Homo sapiens: one gene and its partners. The protein of the gene in region 1 interacts with the protein of each later gene in a biochemical or structural test. Each region holds a gene or a part of one and is shown in the gene's direction. Other genes may lie near its edges.

Region 1 (3,500 bases):
GCTCCTTTTCTGCCCCAGGGACCATCTTGTTGGCCACTGGGGGCCACTGTTTCTACCCTCAGCCTGTGTTTTAAACTGGGTAGGGTCAGGGCAGCCTGGCCTGTTCCTCTTCTCCAGGATGCTCCAGAGCCACTTGCCCTATCGAGGGGTCACTCTGACAAGCTGCCGCCTCCCCAGCCCCCAGCCTCGTGGCTGAGGAACCCTGGGAAGAGGCATTCCAGGTCTGCGTGTGCGCAGCTCTGTGCCTGTGCTGGGTGTCATCCGTGGCTCTGTCTTTGTCTCTGTTGAAGGCGCCTGCATGCTGGGAAGGCCTGGGAGAGGGCCGGCCTTCTCCACAGGCAGCGCCGTGGTTGGGGAAGCCTAGGAGGCCACTCTGCCAGGCCTGGCGTAGGTGGGGCTGGGAGCATGGGAGTGGAGTTGGGGGTCCAGGAGGCTCCAGGGTGAGCCCACTCCTCCCCCTAGATACAAGGGAGGGCCCTGGGACCCTGTCTGCTGTTCCTCCTGGACTCCTGCTGGGTAGTACTTCCTCCTTCCCCTGCCCTTGCTCCCAGCCAGGAGACCCAGAAAAGTACAGGGGCGGCCTGCTCCACCTCCTGCTAGGTGGCCGACTGGGAGGGGCGGCCTGGCAGGCCTTGGGGACCAGGAGGAACAGCCTGAAGCTGTCTGTCTTATCTTCCTGGAGGCCCTGATGGCATTATCTCCATGTTCTCTCCTACCTTTTTTTTTTTTTTTTTTTCATTTTCAAAGAGAACCCTGGCCGGGTGCGGTGGCTCACGCCTGTAATCCCAACACTTCGGGAGGCTGAGATGGGTGGATCACCTGAGGTCAGGAATTTTGAGACCAGCTTGACTAATGTGGTGAAACCCCCGTCTCTACTAAAAATACAAAAATCAGTTGGGCATGGTGGGGCACGCCTATAGTCCCAGCTACTTGGGAGGCTGAGGCAGGAGAGTCGCTTGAACCCGGCAGGCGGAGGTTTCAGTGAGCCGAGATCCCGCCATAGCACTCCAGCCTAGGCGACAGAGTGAGACTGTCTCAAAAAAAAACAAAAAAAGGAAAAGAAAGAAATCCCTTCAGGGGATATGAGTCCAGGGGTTGGCCAGACCCCACTGTGAGAACCGCGCTTGGGGCAGGGGTGTGGGATCTGGAGTTCTGAGGGTGCAGGGGATATACACATTCACTTTCTCCCTTTCCCAGACGTCACTGCTGAAGCTGGCTGCCCCTAGGAGCTGAGCCCGGGGGGAGCGGCTTGGCAGGGAGACAGCATTCCCTGTGGGGAGCCCAGCCTGGGCGCAGGCCTGCCCGTGGGACCTGTGGGACCCGTTTTGTTCCTGGGGCTTGAGGGCGGGCCACAGTGGTGCTCAGGGCCAAGGTGCCCAGCCCAGGGCTGGTGGGGGGGCTGGCCTTGCAGGGGGGCTGGCTGGTCCTAAGCCCCTGTCTCCAGGCTGAGGGTTGGGGCCTCCCTCTTTCCCAGCCACCTTCCCTCCCCCAGGAGGAAGCTCCCCCTCTGCCTCAGGCGTTTGTCCATTGATTTGGACACAAACGCATGGTTCACCTTCCTGTGGAAAAATCCGGCCCTCGGACTTTATCTGGAGGGTGCAGTGGCCCAGGCACCTTGCCTTGGGTGGGACCTTCCCCCTCTGCTATTTCAGGCTCTGGGGGCTGCAGGAAGCCCTAGGAGGGGCTTCCTCTGGGTGTATTTTTAGAGGAACAAAGGGTGGCCTGAGTGGCAGGTCCCTTTGTGCATGAGTCTGGCTGGGGACAGGGGCTCCAGGAGGTCAGGGGGCACCCAAGGAACAGGGTCTCCCCTTCTCTCTTCTGGCATCAAGACCTGAGGTTTCTTTTTCTTTTTCTTTCTTGGCTCACTACAACCTCCGCTGTCTGGGTTCAAGCGATTCTCTTGCCTCACCCTCCCCAGTAGCTGGGATTACAGGCGCGCACCACCACACCTGACTAATTTTTGTGTTTTTAGTAGAGACGGGGTTTCACCATGTTGCTCAAGCTGGTCTCGAACTCCTGATCTCAGGTGATCTGCCCTCCTCGACCTCCCAAAGTTCTGGGATTACAGGTGTGAGCCACTGTACCCGGCCCCTGAGGTCTGAGGTTTCATTTCTTTCTTTCTTTTTTTTTTTTTTTGAGACGGAGTTTCACTCTGTCGCCCAGGCTGGAGTGCTGTGGTGCGATCTCGGCTCACTGCAAGCTCCGCCTCCTGGGTTCAAGCAATTCTTATGTCTCAGCCTGCTGAGTAGCTGGGATTACAGGCGTGTACCACCACACCTGGCTAATTTTTGTGTTTTTGGTAGAGACAGGGTTTCACCGTGTTGGCCAGGCTGGTCTCAAACTCTTGGGCTCAAGTGATCCGCCTGCCTCAGCCTCCCAAAGTGCTGGGATTACAGGTGTGAGCCCCTGCGCCTGGCTCAGGACCTGAGGTTTCTTCACCTGAGCTCCCAGCATGGGCAGGAAGAGGTGGGCCTCACCTGACCTCCACAGAGCAGGCTCAGATCCTGCCCTTCTCAGCCTGGGTTCAGGGCATGCCTCAGATGGTCAGGGAGCCCAGGAGGGCAAAGCTTACCTTGCGGGGATGGCTCCAGTGGGGGCACTGGTGGCAGAGAGGCAGAGCTCTGGAAGGGATGTGTGTAGTTTGTCTTTGGTGAAGGATGGAGAGGGCCCAACTTTGGGTGCCCCCTGGGAGCTAAGGGTGGCTCTCAGTGTCCTCTGTCCTGGCTGGGGATAGGGGAGGTGGGCAGGGGAGGACACTGATGTGGTTGGCCCCTCCTTTTGGGGGCCGTGAAGGCCTAGTTAGTGATGACTCAGCCCTGGGCCACACCAGGCTGGGGGTGGCCGCAGCTGCAGTGCAGCTGATCCTAGTAGTGACGACAGGGGACAGCCCCCAAACAGAGACGGGGTGGCCAGCGGTGCCAGGCCCTGGAGGTGGTGGCAGACCCTGAGCCCTCTGCCCCCTGCCCCTAGCCCATGTCTCCACCCCCATCTGGAGGGCCTTGGGGGCTAAGAGCAGGTGTGAGGGGTGACAGTTCTGCGGGAGGCGGCTGTGTGGTTGGGGCGCGGTGCCTGCGGGGGCTTCCGGGCTTCCCTGGCTCTTGCTCCTCTGGAGCCTCAACAGGACCGTCCTGTGTTCTGGGGCCGGGACTCCTCCCTGTCCCCTCAGCCCTGGGTCCTGGGGCAGGGCAGGGCCTTCCAGCAGCTTCCTTCCTTCCTTTCTTGGGACGGAAGCCTAGCTGGGTGGGGGGCGCCAGGCTGGAGCCTTCGCAGGGGAGCGGGCTCAGTCATCACCCTGCTCCCCAGAGTGACTCAGCCCCCACGTCCCCACCCATCCCCGGGGAGCCAGGGCCGCAGAGGGAGGTAGATAAGTGGGGTGGCAGCCTGGGTCGGCCAGAGAGTTCAGGCCACCCCGGCCGGACGCCTGCCACTTGCTGTCACTGTGCCGCTGTCATGGCACGCTCCGGGAGTGCCACGCCACCTGCCCGGGCTCCGGGAGCCCC
Region 2 (3,500 bases), on another chromosome or scaffold:
AAAATTAGCTGGTTTTGGTGGTGGGCGCCTGTAATCCGAGCTACTTGGGAGGCTGAGGCAGGAGAATTGCTTGAACCTGGGAGGCGGAGGTTGCAGTGAGCGGAGATTGCACCACTGCACTCCAGCCTGGGCGACACTCACACTGGGTGACAGTGTGAGACTCCGTCTCAAAAATAAATAAATAAATAAATAAATAATAATCTTGGCCAGGCACAGTGGCTCACTCTTGTAATTCTAGCACTTTGGAAAGCCAAGGTGGGAGAGTCCCTTGAGCCCGAGTTCAAGACCAGCATGGGCAACATGGCAAGACCCCATCTCTAAATAAAATAATAAAATTATTTTTAAAATTTTTAGAAAAAATGTATTTGATGTATTTCAAAGACTGTTTCCCAACCCCTCTCTTTTAGTGCCCGAAGTGACGAAACCAAGTTTAAGCCAACCAACGGCCGCCAGCCCAATTGGCAGCTCTCCATCGCCACCAGTCAATGGTGGCAACAATGCCAAAAGGGTGGCAGTGCCGAACGGACAACCGCCAAGCGCCGCCCGCTACATGCCTCGGGAGGTGCCGCCGCGATTCCGTTGCCAGCAGGACCACAAAGTGTTACTAAAACGTGGGCAGCCCCCTCCACCGTCCTGCATGCTCCTTGGGGGTGGGGCAGGGCCTCCTCCCTGCACAGCACCTGGAGCAAACCCAAACAACGCACAAGTGACAGGAGCGCTGCTGCAGAGTGAGAGTGGGACTGCGCCAGGTAAGGCACCCTGTGAATCGAATGCATGGCAGCTTGACAGAGAGAGAGCACTTTGTTTGCATTGCTTGATGTAAAGTCCAGGAAAGCCATTCATTATATAAACCACTGGGATTAGTCAAAAGATGAGAGAGGATCCTAGTATGCGATGTGTATTGGTGATTCTTGGAACTGAGGTTTAGTGTTCCGTAAGTGTGTGCTCTTGGCATAAGGGCTAACTTAACTGCTGTTGCTTATTATTTTGGGGGCCTTTTTTCCTTCTCAGACTAGAGTGTTACAAATTTGAGCCTCCATAGTTCCACCGTCATATGTGTTCAGGGCATAATTGGACATGGGGCTTGTGCGAAGGCGAATCTTTAGATGCCTGTGTTATGTTTCCAGAATGCTAGGAGGATAGAGAAAATGATTTGCTACATTGCAATATAGAATCTTCGGAGGATTCTAAAATAATACTATAGTTTTTAAATTAGATTTTTAAACTCAGTATTTCTTTTTGTGGGCCCTGGATTTTGAGCTTTGTTAAAAACTGTATGTAGAAATAAGGGATATTTAGCTGAAAGGTTCTACTAGAAGTTTTGAGAGTTTTTGGCCGGGCACGGTGGCTCACGCCTGTAATCCCAGCACTTTGGGAGGCCGAGGCGGGTGGATCACCAGGTCAGGAGATCGAGACCACCCTGGCTAACATGGTGAAACCCTGTCTCTACTAAAAATATAAAAAAATTAGCCAGGCATGGTGGCGGGCTCCTGTAGTCCCAGCTACTCGGGAGGCTGAGGCAGGAGAATGGCGTCAACCCAGGAGGCGGAGCTTGCAGTGAGCCGAGGTCGCGCCATTGCACTCCAGCCTGGGTGACAGAGCCAGACTCCGTCTTAAAAAAAAAAAAAAAAAAGTTGTGAGAGTTTTTAATAGATGAATACTAAGTCAACTAACAGCTAAGAAATTCTAAATATCTTTTAAAGTTTATTAACAGATTTCAACTTAAAATGTCTTTTGGGGTGATATTAAAATTCAGAGCTTGAATACCATTAGGCATTGGCAAAGATAATGAATTGATGGTTGTCACCAGTAGGATGCTTTATTTGAGTTCTGAGTTTAAACAAATAATTGCCTAGAAAATTTGGTCACCATCTTGCTGTGTGCAGAGTAAGGATGGAAAGAAACCTCGTGGTGACACAGACTTCCTGCAGAGATAAGCCCTACCCATGGCCTTTCCTTCCTGGCTCTCCAAACCAGCTGCAAAAGGAAGCATGTGAAGGGGCAGGCCCTGTCAGGCGGAGTTTCTGCAGCCGAGTGTAGCCAGGCCTAGGTGGAGACTGGGGTCCAGTGTGAGTCAGAGTCCACATTATTAAAACGGAGGAGGCCCCTAAATCTCGAGTTTCGGTTTCTATGCTTTTTATTTTTCTATGCCTCCGTATAATACTTTTTGAAACTTCAAATTGATTAAAAGCTGCCTGGTTAAAGAAGCCAAAATAAATTTAGAAGAAATGATCTCATTAAAAACATGTTTTTCCCACCAAATATGGTAAATTCCACCAAAATATATGGTGAGCCAGACTCATTTAACAGATTAAGTTCCTTGGGGTTGTGAACTCTGCCTAATTCATACTCATGTGACACCCCTGCCACCCTGGGCACCTAGCTCAGTGGCTCAGTGGGTATTCATCATTCAGCAGATGCTTACTCCGCAGCATTGTGCTGGCTGCTGTGTGGAATTCTAACGTTAGCAAGTTAGGGTCTCTGCCTAAAAGACGCTAACATGGGGAAGGAAAGTTGTGAACATGGTGCCACAGCACTGAGCAAAATGGCTCTAGACAGGGAAAGATTATTTTCAGGTGATGAGCTTGAAAACAGCTTCGCAGATGAAATGACACTTGAATTGGGCCCAGAAGGATGAGTAAATTTCACTGTGTGAATTCAGCAGGAAAACACAGTAGGTGCCAACGTGAAATGGTGCCAGAGTGAGAAGGCACAAGTTGTGGAATGTCAAGTAGTATCGAATATTGACATCTACATAGGAGGTAGTAGAAGATAAGACTAGAAAAGTTGGTTGGTCCCAGGTCATGGAACATCTTGATGACATTCGAGGCCAAGGAGTTCAGCTTTATTCTTGTGCACTAAGGAACTGTTGAAGGTTCTCCATACAGCAGTGATATAATCAAAAGTGTGCTTTAGAAAGATTGCTCCAGCCAGGGGTGTTTAGAGTAGGTTGAAGATACAGAGCAAGTTTAGAGTGCCATTGCTATTGCCTTGTCCCAAGATACAAGAAGGCCCTTCTCTGTCAATAGGAATGGCAAAGGACGTAGCTTTGAGAGAGATGAAGTTAGACTTAACCGGTGTAACACAAGGCAAATGAAAAAAAAGAGATGACTAAGACAGTTGTGATACAAGCAACTGGGTTGAGAGAAACTGGCATGTGATCAGCTCTCCTAAGGGCAGAGCTCAAAGGAGAGCCCCTTTGAGGGATTAATGGGTAATGAATGCATTTGAAGCTGTGATTAATAAGATGATCTGTTCCCCAGACTCAACCCTTGGAGGTGCTGCTGCTTCAAATTATGCAAATTCCACTTGGGGCTCGGGAGCCTCCTCCAACAACGGCACCTCCCCCAACCCAATTCACATCTGGGACAAGGTGATTGTAGACGGGTCTGACATGGAAGAGTGGCCTTGTATTGCCAGCAAAGACACTGAATCTTCTTCCGAAAACACCACCGATAACAACAGTGCCTCGAACCCTGGCTCTGAGAAGAGCACTCTGC
Region 3 (3,500 bases), on another chromosome or scaffold:
GATCCCTTTCGAGGGTTTTACTATAATATATAGTGAGAGATGATTGATGATGGGCTTTATTTGGTTGTTGGTCATAAAAAAAGAAAGATAAAATATTAGATTTTAGTTTGAATGCTGGCTTTTATAGGATGGTGCCAAAATTCATTTTGGTGTTGTATTGTTTGGGTGTAGCTTTTCTTTTTATCAAGTTGTCAGAAGTATGCATACATATTTATGACAGAAGAAGTGGCTCTCAAGAATGTATCTTAACTGCATAATTTGCCATTTGACTGCAGACAAGTAACTTAGTTTCTTTTTTGTCTTTTCCACTAGGACTTGGAAGAACAAAGTCGGTTGATAGCTGCTTCCAGTAGACCAAACCAAGCCAGTAGTGAGGGGCAGTTTGTTGTCCTTAGCAGTAGCCAGTCAGAAGAGAGTGATTTGGGAGAAGGAGGAAAGAAGAGAGAATCAGAAGCATAAGCTTATACTTTTGGTAGATATTCCCCCTTGGAATTTGACAGTTTCTATGGTGAAATGGCAGAAGGTAACAACTATGTTGAAATATCAAGGAGGAGATTAAGCTTTATATTTGCTTATTTGTTGTAGCTACATTTTAAAAAAAAGATTGAACTTGATGACTTAGGTTTGCATTGATCTTTTTTCCCCCTTAAACATAATGTACTATGTATTAACATCTAAAGGAAACCTGCTCATCTCCCTGAAGCAGACTGCTGAGGAATTACATTTGCTCAAGAATTTTTTCCGTCAAATTGTGAACTTTTAATTCTTGCATTGTAATTGGCTGTGTCCATAAGAAATCATTTATTCTTCAGGCTTAGACATTCATGGATATGCTTTTCTTTCATTAGGAACATTTTGCTGGTGATGAGGAAGCATTTAGCTGAATAAGTTTAAAGCCCTTTATACAGAGAATTCTACAAGTTTGCAAATATTTTAACAATATTAAATGTGCAATAGAACTTTTATAAAATAATTAGAACAGAGATTTTACAGTTAAGGTTTCAAATTGTGGCAGGTGGTACTGTTGATCTCAGGGTACTTTCTGGGATTGCTCACATTTCTCTAATGTACTGCACTTGATGCCAGTAGGAAAGAAGCTTAAGTGTCTTCAGTTCAAGATTGATAGAGCCCTTGGCATTTTATTATCACATTCTTAGTTCTCAGGTTGGGACTTCAATTACTGCTGCAGAGCAGTAGTGGTTAAAAATAAGATATTGGAATTTATTAAAAGATTTTTGTTCAATACATTTTAGATTAGGATTGACAAGTAAAGATACTGCTATGGAATGATACATTGTATTTTCTGCATTGTGTGAAATAGTTTTTATTGAAAGTCAAGTGACATTTCAAAAGAAGTTCTATAACAATTATGTTTCATGCTTAAAGTAAAAATTCCCAGAGTTTAGTTTAGAAAATGTAATCTTTTAAATTTCAGACTGATATATTCCCAGTATTTTCATAATGCCATGTTTTGATAAAGTACTGAATCACCACTTTATATCCACAAAGGCAAATAACTAATGTATGATAATAGAATAATTTGCACTAATTATTGTAAATATGTCTACTCTTCAAATGAGTAAAAGGTCCAATTTTGTGAAAGATTGAAAATGAATTGAATGCCTAGTAGAGTATAGGAGAAGTTGACCAAGGAAGGATTTAACCTGGTGCCAAGGTTAAAATAACATTTCTCTACTGCCTATTGTTTATGTTAAACCTTAATTTTTTTTCTGTAATCACTTTTAACACTGCTAATAGAAATTATGTTTTCATGTGTTTCACATGAAAAAGTATATATATACAAAGTTAATATAGTGGGTAAAATACTTTACATAGTCACACATTTACAAATTTTTCAAGAGGTTAGCCACTAAGACTTTAATAATTTTACAAGGGAAAAAGCCTTTTTTTTTCTTTGATATACAGTTTTTTCTTCTTAGTTCTGCATTAGAAATGGCATCTGTTTTAGGTCTCAAAATATAACTCAGCTGTTTCACACTGTATATGTACATTGTTTTCTGTAGGAATAGGATAATGATATATAGGATCATGATATTCCTTCTATCCATGTGCCAAATGGGTGTAATGTTTATTTACTGATGCTTTATGTTACCAAAACATACAGTAAAAAAGTAGAAATTTATGAAATACTTTTGATAAAAAGTTTATTTTGTGCTTACCAAAAGGAATGCTTTCACAATAGTGTATCAGTTCTTTTGTTTTGTTAAAGTTGGAATTTATTCTGTTGCCAGCATTTAAGTAGTCATGGCAAGTCCTGTTTTTAAGACCTTTTGGAGACTGGAGCTTTCTGTTCCATTAAGTCTTTTGTTTATACTACAAATTGTCACCTCACTTAGTTCAGATGAAATCTGTTACTCTACAAGGAAGGTGTTCATCATTAGGAGGCAGCTTTACTAAGCTGGTGCTTTGCATGGTAGCAAGTGCTGCCCTTTATCAGCACCCTGGGTCATAGTGTAGGCTAGAGTTAAGGCACTGGCAGACTTAGGGATGCTGGACAGACCTGTAGTTCGTTTTAAGTCATGTTCACAGGAATTTCTACAATAATAAACCCATCATCTCCATAGGTCAGATCGAAGTGCATTCCAATGCTAAATAGAAGTTATGAGTGGGTTTAACAATTTTAGATGATTCAGCTTTTGTTCCATTACTGTTGAACTATATGAACTATTCCATTACTGCAGAGATTTAAGTATCTGTTTTAATAAGCTCTTTTTGTTATTTAAAGGCTGCCCATGGGTTTCTGCCTAGTGGTAAAGCTGATTGTTACCCTCCTTTGAAATCCCTTCTAGTTCTGAGATGCTTTGAGGGTAACTGGATTCGATTTTGGGATATCTTTTCTCACATTCAGACTTACACTTAATGGTGTTAGAAATCAACAAAACTCCTTTTTAAAAAGAAAAGATATTAAGCCTGCCTACTTCTACAATGCATTCTGTTACCTATTTGAACAGTATGTTTGTAACTATGGCAATGAAGTCAGTAGATAGGAAACCAGTTATTCCTTCTACCTTTAAAAATTTTGAGAACTTGCCAACCAGGGATTAAAGCTATTATCTTGAACAGAGTCCCTAAAGCTAGTCTAGTTTTTGCCACATCTGCAATGATTATTGTTTAATTTCAAAAGAATCCTCAGGCTCTACAATCTAGGGGTGGTAAATGTGTTTCCACTATACTTGGGAAAAGGTCAGTAGGATGTGCATCCTAGGGAAGATAAAATCGTATATGGTAAAGGCATTTGAGTTAATTTTGCATTATATCTAGGAACCATATTATTTAAAATTTGAATCCTATTAATGCTGAGAGATCCTAAGAGCTAGTATGTTGTAAAACCTGCCACCTGAATAAAATGAAAAAAAAAGTGTTTTTTTGAGACAGAGTCTTGCTCTGTTGCCCAGGCTGGAGTGCAGTGGTGTGATCTTGGGTCACTGCAAACTCCGCCTCCCAGGTTCACGCCATTCTCCTGCCTCAGCCTCCCGAGT
Region 4 (4,176 bases), on another chromosome or scaffold:
AAAATGAAGGCAGGGCCAGGAGTGGGACTAGAGGGGTGGGAGCAGTGGCTCTCCTGTCCCCAACAAGGGGAAGGAACATCCTGGGCAGATCAGTGTGTTTGTACCCTATCCCCCAAAATCAGACATCGAGGCTTTGCCCCAAACTAACTTCCTACCCACAAATATTCCCCATAGATTTTGAGTGGGAAAGATCTGAATTCTAGGACTAGCTCTGTGAGTGCTAGCAGGTGACCTTGAGTAAGCCATTCACTCTCCCTCTGCCTTGGTTCCCTGTGAGTAATTGGGGAGAACAGTTACTGTATGTCAAAGACTCTAATGACACATAGTAGGATTCCACAGTGACTGTGTATGCACAAGATTGATCATGCATGGCTTTTATTATATTCTTCATAATGGTTGTTTTTCATGTTCTTTTCTCCCCATTAGACTTTGTGCTCCTTGCAGGAAGGAAACTGTGTTTCATTTCTGTACTGGGCACACAATAGGTACCCAACACCTGTTTACTGAATGGAGACATCCAGAAATGAATGAATGAATAAATGTCAGGGTCCTTCCTGCTGTGCCAGGGGATACAGGGAAAAGCAGTGTGGGGTGGATGGCCTGAAAGGATAGGCTGCCTGCAGTGGCTCAGCCTGGCTTGCTTCCTACACCTACAAGTCAGAGCCTTAGAAATTGTCCAGTCAACTTCCTCACTGCACAGATGAAGAAATTAAGGCTCAGAGACAGGAAGGCACTTGCCCAAGGTCACATAACTCCTTAATGACAGATACAGAATTCAGAATTAGAACTCAGGTTTCCTGCCCTCCAGCCTAGGGTATTGCACACACTTCACTGCTTCTCTGGAGCTGTTCTTTTAGGGAAGAAAGATGGTTCAGTGAAGGCCGGTTCCAATGCCCTCCCCTCTGCCCTCTGTTAGTCCTTTCCCACATCTAGCTTCAATCTCTTCCCTTTCCCCCTATTCCATTCCTCTGGAAGTCTAGCTTCTGCCTTAACCCTTCACCACGAAACTGGGAGTAAGGATCTTCCCTAGGGTTCCAAGAATCAATTTCCTCTCCCCACTCCTCTGCCCTGGGAACTTGGGGGAACCAGAGATGTGTGTGTGTGTGGGGGGGTGCTGTTGGTTGAACCTCGGGCACCGAGTCCACGGAGAACAGATGGAGAGGGGTTGCGGCACAGATTCTCCCAGGATAGGAGCGCGGGAGGGAGGTGCAGTGAGCAGGGCTGGGAGCGGGGAAGAGGTGTGGGGAGTCCCTGTTGCTTTACCCCTTCGGGGGGTGGTTATTAGGTAGGCTTGGGAAGGCGGAGTTTGGGGGGCTGGGGGCGGGGCTCGGCTGCGCTGGCAGGAAAGGGGGGGCGCGCTGGCTCCAGCTCGGCTCAGACAAAAGGCGGCGGCGGGAGCGGGCGGGAGGCGGAGCGGCGCCGCGAGGGCCTCAAGGTGACACCCGCCCCCGGCCCCGGCCCCCCCCGGCCCGGCCCCCCAGCCTGCCTCCCACCCTCAGCCCCCAGCCCCTTACTCCCGGTGCCCTTTCCGGGCCCCCTCCCCCGGCGGGGGGTGGGGAGCAGCGAGGGCCCCGCCCCCTCCCGTCCTCTCCCCAGGGCCCGCGCAGGATGCCCCCGGCCCCTGGCAGCCCCCCGGGAGGTCCTGAGCTCGACGCGCCCCCTCTACGCCATGTCCCCCCCTGGCTCGGCCGCGGGAGAGAGCGCCGCCGGCGGCGGCGGCGGCGGTGGCGGCCCCGGGGTCTCGGAGGAGCTCACGGCGGCGGCGGCAGCGGCGGCGGCGGACGAGGGCCCCGCCCGAGAGGAGGTGAGAGTCTAGGGCGCCCCTTCCCCGGGCGCGGCCGCAGCCTGGCCCCCCATCCCCCATCGCACGCGTCCCCCGCTGGTTCCGCCGCAGCGCGGCCGGCGCCCCGCACCCCGAGCCGGCCGCTGCAGCCGCAGTCCGCGCCGCCGCCCCCACCCGGCGGCCGGAGCTGTCCGCGGTGCCGGGGAAGGGGCCGCGCCGGGGGCGGGGCTCAGGGGTCCCGGGCAGGGGGAGGGGCCTAGGGGCGGAGCCTCGCGGATCCTGGGCTTATGAGAGTGGGGGCTATGCTCTACCGGGGTGGGGACGGTGGCGGGGATCCTGTCTCACAGAGGAGGATGCTACCTTGAAGGCCAGGAAGGGCGGCTTGTACGGGCTACAGAACGAGGAGGGTACCATGGGGAAGTGGTGGTGGTACCTGATCTGGGACCCTAAGGAGGTCAGATGTGTACGGGGGGTCCCGCCTGTGGTCATTGGGAGTGTGTGTGTGTGTGTGTGGGGGGGGGTGTGCACCTCTCTCTCACGAGGCTCCTGCTGCTTCCTCATATCCCTAGTTGGGGTCCCTAGTACTCAGTCCTCTGAACCTGAAGACAAAGAGACGGAGGAAAGTACCAGGAGCACCCCCACTCCAGCCTCCCATGCACACTTGTGCACACGCATGCACCCTGTACTAGGGCAGAGGCACACAAGCGGGGATGGGCCTGCAGGTAAAGCCCCTTTCAGAGGTACCCACATGGGGACAAGCACATAACCAGGTAGGCACACGAAGGGGCCCGTATGTTCATACCTCCTAAGGACAAGGCTCCCCGAAAGGCACATGTACCCTAATCTCCTTGTCCACATGTACTGTGTGCTATTTCCTAGCTCGCCTAACTATCCATACTTCTAGATCCAGGGACCGATGCCTATTACTGTACCCTTCTTTTCCACTCTTTTCCTCTCTTTCCTGGCTGGCCTCTAGGTCAGGCCTGAGGAATTGAGGGGGTAAGTCAGGATCCCAGCAGGAGGTTGTGTGTGTGTGTGTGTGTGTGTGTGTGGTGGGGGATGGGTTCCTAAAGCTAGACAGCACAGAGGAGGGGTGGGAAAACAGAGGCCACTACAAGAAATTAAACTCAACACTCAATTAGGATGTGGCTGCTGGGGGCCAGCACCATGGTAGGCACCTAGGATGCAAAGAGAATGAAGCATGGGCCCTCAGGAGTACCCAGTGTAGTGGGGAGCCAGACATGTAAACAACTCCTGGGCCAACCCTGGGACAGAATGTGCCAGGAGCTTTAACAGACAGGCTCCAGGAGAGTACCAAAAATAATTTTCTCTTGATAAATTGCTGGGCTTCAAACGTTGTCCTCGCTACCCCAGTCCCACATCCCCTATGCCTGTCCTCTCCTCAGCCACATGCCTCTGCCCTTCTGGATACCTCCTCCTGGACTGCCTGCCGCTCAGGGACCCCAGCCCCCTCCCTCCCATCCTAGGACAAAGGGAAGGATGTCAGGGTGCAGGAGGGAGACTCACAGGGGAACCAGGGTCCAGAACATGGGGAATGAGACTGGGCCTGGGGTTCTCTGGAGGCCCTTATCCAAAGGACGTGTTAGGCTAATTGTGAGGGTTAGGGAGGTGGATGGGTCAGAGGGGAGTAGCTCCTCTAGAACCTAGGACTGAAAAAAATCTGGAAGTGAGGGCCCCACTTGTTAAGTGGGGAAGTGATGTCAGTGGGTCCCTCCCCCTTTTCTAGAGGACCTGGAAGGGGTCTGGGCTGGGGACCTTCCTTCGCTGATGCCTGTCTGTCTGTCCTCCCCTGTCTTCCCTGTCCACATCTTCTGTTTCATTGCCATTTTTGTGTTTGTCTTCGGATGCTCTCTGGGTACCATCCTATCCATCTGTGTTTGCTGCCTGGGCCTCTATCTCTGGCTCTGATCCTTCTCTGCCTCTTGGGGTGTCTCTCTCTGCACTCTCCTGTACTGGCATTCCGGTCCCCTTTCCTGTCCTCTGGCTTGCTCTGTGTCACTTCTGTTTCTACCTCTGGCCCCTGGCTCCCATCTTGGTCTCACCTTTTCTCTCCATATCCCTGTTTCTCTCTGCCTGTTATCTCTGGTGCTGGCCTCTGCCCCTCCATCCCCGTATCCATCTCTGTGCTGGGTCCTGCCTGCTCTCACTTCCCACTCATCTTGGCCCCTCTCCCTGCCCACCTGAGCAGCAGCGTCCCATCCAGCCCTCTTTCACCAAGTCCCTCTGCCGTGAGTCCCACTGGAAGTGCCTCCTGCTCTCGCTGCTCATGTACGGCTGCCTGGGGGCAGTGGCCTGGTGCCACGTCACCACAGTGACGCGCCTCACCTTCAGCAGCGCCTACCAGGGCAACAGCCTCATGTACCATGACAGCC

What was found.
Region 2: the proteins of NHERF2 (region 1) and TNRC6B interact in a test that uses a peptide from one of them, tested with the Homo sapiens proteins (one large-scale study listed by IntAct).
Region 3: the proteins of NHERF2 (region 1) and APPL1 interact in a test that uses a peptide from one of them, tested with the Homo sapiens proteins (one large-scale study listed by IntAct).
Region 4: the proteins of NHERF2 (region 1) and TMEM151B interact in a test that uses a peptide from one of them, tested with the Homo sapiens proteins (one large-scale study listed by IntAct).

The regions. Positions count from the first base shown.
Region 1 is NC_000016.10:2,029,902-2,033,401, forward strand, and holds part of NHERF2 (Na(+)/H(+) exchange regulatory cofactor NHE-RF2), read left to right. Parts: intron 1-3,392; exon of another isoform or gene 3,393-3,450; coding exon of another isoform or gene 3,451-3,500.
Region 2 is NC_000022.11:40,261,425-40,264,924, forward strand, and holds part of TNRC6B (trinucleotide repeat-containing gene 6B protein), read left to right. Parts: intron 1-407; coding exon 408-749; intron 750-3,263; coding exon 3,264-3,500.
Region 3 is NC_000003.12:57,269,229-57,272,728, forward strand, and holds part of APPL1 (DCC-interacting protein 13-alpha), read left to right. Parts: exon of another isoform or gene 1-312; coding exon 313-459; 3' UTR 460-3,500. UniProt on the Homo sapiens protein: Multifunctional adapter protein that binds to various membrane receptors, nuclear factors and signaling proteins to regulate many processes, such as cell proliferation, immune response, endosomal trafficking and cell metabolism.
Region 4 is NC_000006.12:44,269,074-44,273,249, forward strand, and holds the start of TMEM151B (transmembrane protein 151B), read left to right. Parts: upstream 1-1,376; 5' UTR 1,377-1,669; coding exon 1,670-1,804; intron 1,805-3,992; coding exon 3,993-4,176.